Homo sapiens: one gene and its partners. The protein of the gene in region 1 interacts with the protein of each later gene in a biochemical or structural test. Each region holds a gene or a part of one and is shown on either strand. Other genes may lie near its edges.

What was found.
Region 2: the proteins of HERC5 (region 1) and UBE2E2 form a complex in vitro, tested with the Homo sapiens proteins (one study listed by BioGRID).
Region 3: the proteins of HERC5 (region 1) and ERCC2 form a complex in vitro, tested with the Homo sapiens proteins (one study listed by BioGRID).

What each region holds. Positions count from the first base shown.
Region 1 is NC_000004.12:88,470,527-88,474,179, forward strand, and holds part of HERC5 (E3 ISG15--protein ligase HERC5), read left to right. Parts: intron 1-87; coding exon 88-147; intron 148-1,882; coding exon 1,883-1,976; intron 1,977-3,653.
Region 2 is NC_000003.12:23,528,270-23,531,922, forward strand, and holds part of UBE2E2 (ubiquitin-conjugating enzyme E2 E2), read left to right. Parts: intron 1-3,653.
Region 3 is NC_000019.10:45,353,552-45,357,204, reverse strand, and holds part of ERCC2 (general transcription and DNA repair factor IIH helicase subunit XPD), read left to right. Parts: intron 1-1,476; coding exon 1,477-1,540; intron 1,541-2,353; coding exon 2,354-2,475; intron 2,476-3,653. UniProt on the Homo sapiens protein: ATP-dependent 5'-3' DNA helicase. Component of the general transcription and DNA repair factor IIH (TFIIH) core complex, not absolutely essential for minimal transcription in vitro.

The DNA of each region.
Region 1 (3,653 bases):
TTTATCATGTCTCATGCTGTAAAGAAAGAGGCTGTATGTATGTATACCATGTGATTTGGTTTAACCAGTGTCTTATTACTAATATAGGGAAATCCAAGAGATATTTTCATCTCCTGCTTGTCTAACTGGAAGTTTTTTAAGGAAAAGGTAATATATGTAATAAATTAATTGTATTAAATTGTATTAAGAGTACCGTGAAAGAGGATAAAAAAATGATTGGAGAGTAAAATAGCTGTGTGTTCATCCCTTTTTAAAAATTTTTTTTAACAAAAGTAAATATATGTTTGCTGTAGAAAATGTCAAAAATACACACAATAAAAAGAAAGTGAAAATCTTCCATAATCCATCACTTAAGAGTAATAGCTAGCACTTACGTATATGATTATATTTTTTCATGCAAATGTATTCTTTTAAAAAAAATGAGATCATACTGGTTCTTTGTTTTTTTCTTTTTTTTTTTGAGACAGGGTCTTGCCCTGTCGTTGCCCATGCTTTAATGCAGTTCTGTGATCTTGGCTCATTGTAACCTCTGCCTCCTAGGCTCAAGCAGTCCTCCCACCTCAGCCTGAGTAGCTGGGGCTTCAGACACATGGCACTACACCCAGCTAATTTTTGTATTTTTTTGTAGAGCCAGAGTTTTACCATGTTGGCCAGGCTGGTCTCGAACTCCTGAGCTCAGGCAATCTACCAGCCTTGGCCTCCCCAAGTGCTGGGATTTCAGGTGTAAGCCACCATGCCCAGCTGGATCATATTGTTTATACATTGTTTTCTACCTAATATTTGCCCATTTTACATTTTATTCTATCTTTTTTGGTAATTTTTTTTTTTTTGAGACAAGGTCTCACTCCATCACCCAGGCTGGAGTTACAGCATCTTGGTTCTTGGGCTCAAGCATCATCAAACTCTTGGGCTCAAGCAAAACTCCCACCTTAGCCTTCCACGTAGCTGGGACTACAGGCACGTGCCACCACCTCCTGCTAATTTTTTAGCTTTTGTAAAGACAGCAGCTTTGCTATGTTGCCCAGGCTGGTCTTGAACTCCTGGCCTCAAGCAGTCCTCCCACCTCAGCCTCCTGGTGTTGGGATTATAGGTGTGAGCTACCGCACCCAGCCGGTAACATAATTTAATGGCTGCATGACCTTCCATTAGAAGGTCTTCCATGAGAAGATACTTAAACATTTCATTAATAACTTTATATTGAAGTACTAAGAAATTATTGGTCAGAAGCCCTCTCTTTTGGTTCCCACTTTTCAGTCCATTTAACGGGAAGAAATGGATGTATTTTTTAGAAATGGGAAAAATGTTTATCTTTTTTCTGTCTTCCTTCCTTCCTTCCTGTGGTCAGTCCTTTCTTCCTTCCTTCCTTCCTTCGAAAAACCTTTATCTTTTTTCTATGGCCCGCCCTTCTTCCCTCCCTTCTTTCCTCCCTCCCTCCCTCCCTCCTTCCCTTCCTTCTTTCTTTTCTTTTTTTCTTTCTTTCTTTTTCTGAGGCAGGATCTTGCTCTGTCACCCAGGCTGGAGTACAGTGGCATGTTCACAACTCACTGCAGCCTTGATCTCTCAAGCTCAAGCGATTATCCTGTCTCAGCCTCCCTCTGTGGCTATTTTTTTTAAACTGGGAAATATTAATTTTTTTAATCTATTACAGATAAGACAGCATCTGAGTTAAAGTCTTATGGTATATACAGTTAAAGCAGCCTTGATATTTTTTGGTATTTTAGAAAAAATCATGTTTACTACATTGCATTTGGATTTAGACAATTTATTATAGTTACACACTTGAGAAAAAAGGTAATTTTGTTGAAATGGGGCAAGCTCTAGAAGAAACTTTGCATCTAGGGAGATAATCTAACAAAATACTTAATTTATCTTTCTTCTACAGAAGAACTACAGAAATGATGCCTGTTTATTTGGACTTAAATAAAGCAAGAAACATCTTCAAGGAGTTAACCCAAAAGGACTGGATTACTAACATGGTATCTTCAGATTGTTATGTGGAGAAAGAAAATACACCAGAATATTTCTTAAAAGAACTCAAAATTTCAGAAGAAATGTTTTGTGTTAAGGGATTCTCCGAGACCTTGTAGCATATTCAGATTAAGTTAAACTCAGATAACATTTAGGAGTTTGCCCTTTTAGGGTGAAATAGTTGGCATAGTAGTCACACAGGTTACAGATATTCTAAATAGTGTGTCTGTACACAAACACACATACACATATATGCATACACATTCGTAGAGGGAAGTTTTTCAACTCAGGGCTTTAGGAAGATGATTAAGGATTTGTTGAGATTGGTACACTAGAATAAGAACATTTTATATGCAAAGCATAAATGTAGAAATGAGAACATTTTTTCTGATATGAATATCCCTCTCACCAGGGACTGCCTGGATTCTTTTTTTTTTTTTTTTTCCATTCTACTTTTCTGTAGATTCTAGAATGTTCTTGTTCCTTATGGGATGATTGTTTCCTGTTTCAGCACTGTTACTGCTATCTTTAGGTTTTCTTTTTGCAGGTGCTCCAAACATGCTTCCTTTATTTTTATTTTTATTTTTTTGGAAACGGAGTCTCGCTTTGTTGCCCAGGCTGGAGTCCAGTGGTGCGATCTCGGCTTACTGCATGCTTCGTTTATTAATTTAGTTTTTCTTAATGTAGTTTTTATTATTTCCCTATTTTATTTTACTGGTTGATATGGGGATACTACTTTCTGTTCTACTCTCCATTTTTTTCTCTCTGGGTCGCACTGTAGTTCCTTCTTTCTTTCTCTCTCCTTCCCTCCTCCCCTCCTTCCTCCCTCTAGCCTCACCCCATTTTTTAATCTCTCTCTGTGTTCATATCCCTCTTCTCTTTCCCTCTCAATCTTTGATCTCTCACCCTTCCTCCTTTCAGCTCCCGCACTTGCTCTGTTTGCCACAACTAGCATTTTCTATTTCAGCTGCAAGTTTTCTCATTCGCTCCTTTCTTTCAAGGAAAGATGGAAAGTTCAGTTCTCTTAACTTTGGCAGAACCACAGCCCCACTGGGGGTCCGAGGTGAAATGGTTCCCTAATTATGTACCTTTATTGGGACCCTACAACACTTAGTGCTGCCTGTATCAACAACCCAGAAACTACTCAGTGGACTATTTCATCAACATTTGTTAGAGCTCATTTTCTTTTGTTTTCTAAAATCCTCCTGTGGGGGCCAGTTTAACTTTCTTTCTGTAAGATTCTGAGTCATTGCTACTAAATACAACCATGGAAAGATTACCAAAAATAGAAGCCCTTTTGTGCGTCTGTGAAGGGAAGGGATTGGATCAGTTCATCATTAAGGGCTCCTTCTGTTTACTAATTATACCTTGATTGTGCCACAAAAAGAACATATGGTATGTAAATGAAATAATCATAGGGCATCCTTGACCTCCATTGTTTCAGAATAAGATGATTGGATTAGAAGACCTGTAATGTTTCTTTCTATCTTGAGGTTCTGCGATACGGACTCTCAGACCTTTGGCATGTGTTCATTTATTCAGCAAACATTTGAATACTTGCTGTGTGCTGGGCACTGTAATGATGACTCGATGAAGAATAAAAGAGACATACTCCCTGTGCTTTAGAAGCTCATGGTGTAGTAAGGGAGACAGATACATACATGCATACATCAGTGCAAAGACCT
Region 2 (3,653 bases), on another chromosome or scaffold:
TGGGTAAACAAATTGGTACATCTATTACTGTTTGGTTCTTAGTCTTATTTGGAGAAAGAATTCTGCCAAGCTACTGGTTTAGCCAGAGAAAGAGAATTCATTGAAGGAAAATACAGAGTAGGGAGTTTATCTAGAGAGACAGTACACTCTGAAAAGATGAGGCAGGGCGAGCTGCTGAAAGAGAGTGAGCCAGCAGCACCCCGAGAGTGGTGGGTTTTTATGATTTCAGATTTTTTCTTGAAGTTCCTGCCTCTTTCTTAAGTCTCCGCCTTTTTACTTTGTTTAGTTTTCTGCATCTGCCTTAAGTCCCTGCCTTTTCCCTCACCTAGTTCCCGCCCCAAGGTTGTGGGACCCTCCCTTACTATTGGTGTGCACGCGTGAACCCGATGTTGGACACAAATTGCTTCTGCGTATCTCTTAGGAATTTTCTCCTTTGCCCTCTTCCCTTTAGCATGCATCTAGCTACATTCTGGCAGGTTAACTGGCAGAGTGAGCAATCACTGGGGTCTTAAGGGGGATTCCTTTCTGCCTAGGTATTTCCCCTCCTGTCTGTTCATATCTAGCACGCCTGTTTGGGGTGATCCCTGGGGCATGAGATTTTCCAGACTCCTTTTCTCAGGGCAGCCCTTCTCCTCCTCATGTCTGTTTATCTGCCTATTCTACCACATCTATGCCGTGGAATACTACTCATCAGTAAGAAAGGAACAAATTATTGACACGTGCAACAGCTTGGATGGATCTTAAGGGAATTGTGCAGAGTGAAAAGAACCAATTTCAATTGGTTACCTACTATACGATTCCATTTATATAGCGTTCTTGAAATGACAAAGTTGTGGAGATGAGGACAGAGTTGTAGTTGCCAGGAATTGAAGTAAAGGGAGAAGGCAACTATGGCTATCGCAGGGTACCATGAAGAATGTTTGTGATAGAGTTGTTTGTGTGTTGACTGGTGGTATTCACACAAATCTATACATGTGATAAAATTACATAGAACTAAATATACTTAATATGCATGAGTGCACATAAAAATGAAACTGGAAAAGGTCAGTGGACTGTATTAATGTCAGTTTCCTGCAGTATACTGTAGTTATACAGGATGTTTTCATTGGGGAAAATTGAGTGAAAAATACATGGGATCTCTTTATTTCTTACAACTGTACATGAATCTACAATTATCCCAGAATTATAAATTTTTAACGAAAGAACAGAGGCATTGATGCTGAGAGACAAACCGTAGGCTTTTGGATCAGCACAATTGTGTTCAAATTCTGGCTTCCACTTACCACTTGTGGGATCTTGAGCCAGTTCTTTAACCTCCCTTTGCCTTAGTTTCATCATTTTTCAAGTGGTTGCCAATAATATTATTTTCCCTATTGAGTTGTTTTGAGGGTTAATTATCAATATTATGTAAGCCACTCATTGGTTAAATTGGGATCGTAAAAATATTTTATCTTTTCATTTAGCACTTAAAGGGATAGGCACTCTGCCTTCTCCAGAGAAATTTTAATATCACGAGATAGTCTCTGTTTCATTAACTTAGGCTAGTGTCTTTATTTCTTCTTTCATGGAGTTTACTCTGTTGTTCTTTTACTACCTTCCTGAGTTGGACACTTAACTCATTAAATATCTGTCTTCCTTCCTAATGTATGTGTTTGAAACTGTAGATTTCTCTTTTACAACTGTTTTAGCTGAGTCACAAAATTTTGATATTGGCAACCCAATATTTTCATTGTCATTCAGCAATAATAGTAACTGATTTTTTTCTTTGATCCAAGAATTATTTGAAAATGAGTTTTTCAGTTTCCAAACATATGATAGGGGGATCTTTTATATGTAGATTCTGACTTTACATTATGGTCTTAATAATGTCAATTCTTTGAAATATGTAAAGCTTCTTTTGTGGCTTAGCATGGGATCAGTTTTTACAAATGTTTCTTAAATGTTCCTTAATCATTAAGTGTAGGATTGTGTCTTCATTCACTCCCTTGATTTTGTTTATCCAATTGTTCAGATCTCCAATATCCTTACTAATCTTTAGTCTGGTTGACCTATCAGTTACTGTGGTGAAAATGTCCCTCTTTGATTATAGCTATGTCATTTTCTCCTTATAATTTTGCACATTTTTACTTTGTATACTTTTGGCTATATTGTTAGATACAGCACATTCAGAATTGTTACTGTTTTCTTGATGAGTTGTTTATTTTATCAGTAACGTTCTTTGTTTCTAACAATGCTTTTTCCCTTAAACATATTTTGATCTGATAATATAGTCATTTAAGCTGTTTTTGTTAGCTAGTGTTTACACAGTATATGTATCTAGGATTTAGAATTCTCAGGAAAAACATTTCTCTTCTCATTCTAGAGCCCACGCTTTCTTTGGTAAGTTTCTTTGCTATCTCTGTCATAAGGCATATCTTTTCAAGTCCATGCATTTACTGAAAGACTAGCCATTCGAGTTTCCTAATTGATATAAGGGCGCTCAATTCTAAATTCTTGCAACATACAGGCCTAAGATTTCATCTTCTTTTTCCATGAGGGCATCAAAACCCAAACCTCCACTTTATTAAGACTGAGTACCATCTTTTACTCCCTTCCCTCTTCCCAAAACCCCACCCATGGCAGGTGCAGTCTCAGCTTGTTGCGCTTACTATAATTTTTGGTTTTTAATTCTGGGCTCTGGGAATTCCCCTTACAGATTTTGCTATGCATTTTAAAGAATGTTGGTTATATTTTCTTCAACATTTCTAGGCATTTAAGATGTGTATGTAGGTGTCATGGATTATCTGGTCTGGCATGATGCTAGAAGGGCAGTTCTCATTAGAAGTACTAATTTAACCTGAGAATGATGTCTCTTGTTCGACAACCACATAAGTCTCTAGATTTGCCCTTTCTGAGACTTCGCATCATGTAAATTACATAAATCTGGTGTTTGACTGGATGCTGGATGCCCTGGTGGAGTGGCAGCACCTGCAGAGATCTGCATGTGTGTTTTTCTTGGTTCAGAGCTATTTTGAACATAGGGTACCAAAAGACTGTCTTTAGAACCCTGAGATTTTTGTATATTTCAACTTAAAATTTAAGAACATTTATGAACATAATATTAATCAATAATATTCACATCTTATTGCCGTTTACATAACACTTTTATTAAACAGTTTTAGTAGTTATAAAACTGATTTGCACTTAATTATTTTCGTAGTTATAAAACTGATTTGCACTTAATTATTTTCAGTTGAAGTGTTTTACAAATGATATGGTCATGTTTCACAATTACATGTAAGCAGCATACAGTGGTGATCTAGCTATCACAGGGCAAAGGTAGGATGCACTAATATTACGTTTTAAAAATAAAATTTAAGAAGGAAAAGGTTTCTAAATTACAGCTAATTGTAACTAGTAATATAACTAAAATAGTAAATTGTAACTACTATAATTATACTAATATAGTTCTATGAACTGGGCATGTTATTTATATAAATGCCTTAGTTTATGTTTTAAAACTGTGTTATAGGCCGGGTATGTTGGCTTACACCTGTAATCCTAGCACTTTGGGAGGCCAAGGCAGGCGGATGACTTGAGGTCAGGAGTTCAAGACCAGCCTGGCCAACATGGCAAAACCCTGTCTCTACTAAAAATACAAAAATTAGCTGGGT
Region 3 (3,653 bases), on another chromosome or scaffold:
TTGGCTTCCCCCACTGCTCAGGCAGGAGAGCTTTACAGCGAAGAGGCTGGGTTCGGGATTCAGACAGACTTAGGCTTGATTCTGCTTCTCTGTGGGCTCGACTCTCAAGCCTCAGTTTTCTCATCTGTGAAATGGGAATGTATCCTCCCTGATCTCCCAGGGTGGTTGAGAGGATTGAGAGAGAGAACTGGGGTAAACCACTTAGGTCGCCCAGGGCCTGGCACAGGTAGGCGCTTAGTCAGCATCTTAGCATCTTGCCGAGTACGTGGTCTGGCTGTGACCCAGGTAAGTGAGCCTTCCTCTCCGTCTCCGTCTCTGTAACACGTGCATGTCAACATGAGCCCTCAGTCCCTTATCTGAAGTCCCCAGGCTGGATGTGGTTTTTTGTTTTTGTTGTGCGACGGAGTCTTGCTCTGTTGCCCAGGCTGGAGTGCAGTGGCACGGATCTCAGCTCACTGCAACCTCCGCCTCCTGGATTCAGGTGATTCTGATGCTTCAGCCTCCTGAGTAGCTGGTACAGGCATGTGCCACGATGCCCAGCTAATTTTTGTAATTTTAGTAGAGACGGGGTTTCACCACGTTGGCCAGGCTGGTCTGAAACTCCTGACCTCAAGTGATCCGCCCGCCTGGTCCTCCCGAAGTGCTGGGATTACAGGTGTAAGCCACTGCGCGCAGCCATTTGTTTTGGAATTCAGAATTTTCCAGCCTTTAGAGACAAGGCCTATGCTGTGTGGTGTGTGATGCCCACAGTGGGGTCTGGGCAGCTCCCCCGAGTCAAACTCCCATTTCGGCAGTAAAAGATTGGGAAGCATCACACTAAGGAGTAAGTCAGGCCTCTGGAGAGACTCGGGGCAGGGCAGGTTTTGCTGCTTCATGAGTTTGTGCCAAACTTGAAAAAGAAATGTGTTCAGAGCTTTTGGCTTTTGGAGTTGCCTGTCAGAGGTTGTGGACCGGTAATGACCCCCACTGCATGGTGGTTGTGTGAGGTTGCCGGCTGGTGGGATGCCCGCCGGCATGGCGAGGGGTGTTCTTCGGGATCCGGCTGGCCCAGGGCCTGGGGCTGGCTAGAGTGTAGCTGCTGTTGGAGAGTGTGGACAGACTCGGGTCCGGTTCCATCTTTGCCACCTGTTTGCTGTGTGACCTTGGGCAGGCAACTCACCTTCTCTGAGCCCAGGTCATTTGTGCAATGCAGATAACAGGGTTGCTGAGGGTTCATTCAATGACACTGTGTTTATAAAAAGTTTAGAGCAGACTGGGTGTGGTGGCTCATGCTTGTAATCCCAGCACTCTGGGAGGCCAAGGCGGGATGGTCACTTGAGGCCAGGTGTTCAAGATCAGCCTGGGCAACATGGTGACACCCTGTCTCTCTTTAAAAAAAAAAAAAAAAAAAGCTTAGAACAGCACCAGCAGGTGGTCAGCACTCACGCTGGAGCAGTTGCTGCTGCCTCGCTTATCGTGACCTCTGTTGCTCTCCAGATCATCGGCCGTGGCAATGACCAGGTGGCCATCAGCTCCAAATTTGAGACCCGGGAGGATATTGGTATGCTGCCAGTGGGGCTGGTTTCTGTGGGTTCCAAGAGGGGAGGTGTATCAGTCAGGTGGGCTGAGTCATGCTGCTGTAACAAATATCCCTGGCCTTAGTTGCTCAGCCCAGAGTTTCCTTCTTGCCCGTGGTACACGTCCACTGTGAGCTGGTAGGGGCCTGCCCTGTGTCTCCTCACCTGGGAACCTCCACCGCTGGGTGTGTCAGAGGCAGCATAATGTGACAGGTGGGATCACAGTGGTCACAGTGTATTGTGCACTGGTTCCTAAGGGTGCTCCCCTGGAAGTGACACATGGCCTTTTTTTGAGACAGAGTCTTGCTCTGTTGCCTAGGCTGGAGTGCAGTGGCATGATCTCGGCTCACTGCAGTCTCTGCCTTGCGGGTTCAAGCGATTCTCATGCCTCAGCCTCCCGAGTAGCTGGGATTACAGGCCTCTGCCGCCACGCTGGGCTAATTTTTGTATTTTTAGTAGAGATGGGGTTTCGCCATGTTGGCCAGGCTGATCTCAAACTCCTGACTTCAGATGATCCACCCGCCTCGGCCTCCCAAAGTGCTGGGATTACAGGCGTGAGCCACAGCGCCCGGCCCCTTCTGCACTCATTTCATTGGCCATGGCAAATCACATAGCCAGGTGTGACTTCAGGAAGTGGCAAGGCGGGTCCTCAGACACGCCCGGGAGGAGGAGGAGGGGGATATGTGTGAAAAGCCTGACAGGCAGCCTCAGTGGGGTTTCCAGAAACTCCTAGTTCTAAGACAGAGAAGGGAGGAGGACCTGGGCCAGGAGAGGGCCCAACCTCTGACCCCTTGCAGCTGTGATCCGGAACTATGGGAACCTCCTGCTGGAGATGTCCGCTGTGGTCCCTGATGGCATCGTGGCCTTCTTCACCAGCTACCAGTACATGGAGAGCACCGTGGCCTCCTGGTATGAGCAGGTACGCCTGGCCACCCCCTCCCTGCACCTGCTCTCCTCAGTCCCTGGCACTGCACCGCTATGTCAGCTTCATTCCTCTCACACTCTGATGGTGACAGGTTTCCTGTGTGACAGGAGAGTGTGTGCAGCATGTAGGAATGGGGTGTAAGCAGCACACACCCCCATGCCCCGCCCCCAGTACATCAGGCTGAGAATGCAGATATAAGCCCCAATGTGGGCCCCTCCCTCAGAGGAGTACCCTGTGGCAGAGTCACCCCCACGTTCTAGGTTCCTTGCTTCTCTGCTGCTTTTGGGGTTACCCATCCCTGTTATCCTCCAGCACAGATGGCCTGGTGGGGAGGCCCAGATAGCAGGCGTGGCTCTAGCTGGGTTAGAGGAATTCTAGAGAATTAAGGCTGGACCAAGACTCGGGGCGAGCCTCTCAAGGGTCTGCAGGAGCCCCTTCAGGGAAGCAGCTAGAGGAGGTCGTGGGGCATTCTGGAAACAGGGCTCACCACAGCCAGGCCCTGGGTGACCAGCAGGACATGGGTGGGAGGGGAGGCCACTCTGCACTTTGTGCCTCTGAGCACACCATGGCCGGGCTCTCAGGAGTGGGTGAAAGCACTTTGGGGTGAGGTGAGTGAACTTGGCTAATCCAGGTATTGGAAAGGCACGCATGGGAGGCGGGAACGTCATCCTCACAGCCAGGACATCGGCCTTGTGCTTCAATAGGCGGCTTCCACGCGGCGGGAAAGGTGACCCAGTCCCCACAGCGCAGGTGCCTTTTGTGTCCTACTTAAGACACCTTTGCCTACCCCAAGGTCATAGAGAGAGGCTCCTTTGTTTCCTTCTAGGAGCTTGTGGTTTTAGCTTTCACATCCAGGTCTATGAGGTACCTCAAATTCATCTTTCTATGTGGTGTGAAGTAGGGGGTCAAGGTTCATTTTTTGGTTCCATTTGAAAATCCACTTGCTCCAGTAAAAGCTCTCCCCACTGAACTGCACAGGTGGCTGTGTGTTTCTGGACTCTCCATTCTGTCCCAGTGGTCTGTCCTTGCATTGGCTCCACACTGTCTCTATTGTAGTGTCATATGGGAAGTCTCAGGGCAGCCTCTGATTGGCTCTGCCTGCCTCACAGTCAGCCCCTCCACCAATCGCTGGCAGGGGTTGGGGTGCCCTGATTGGCCACCCGCTTGGGCCA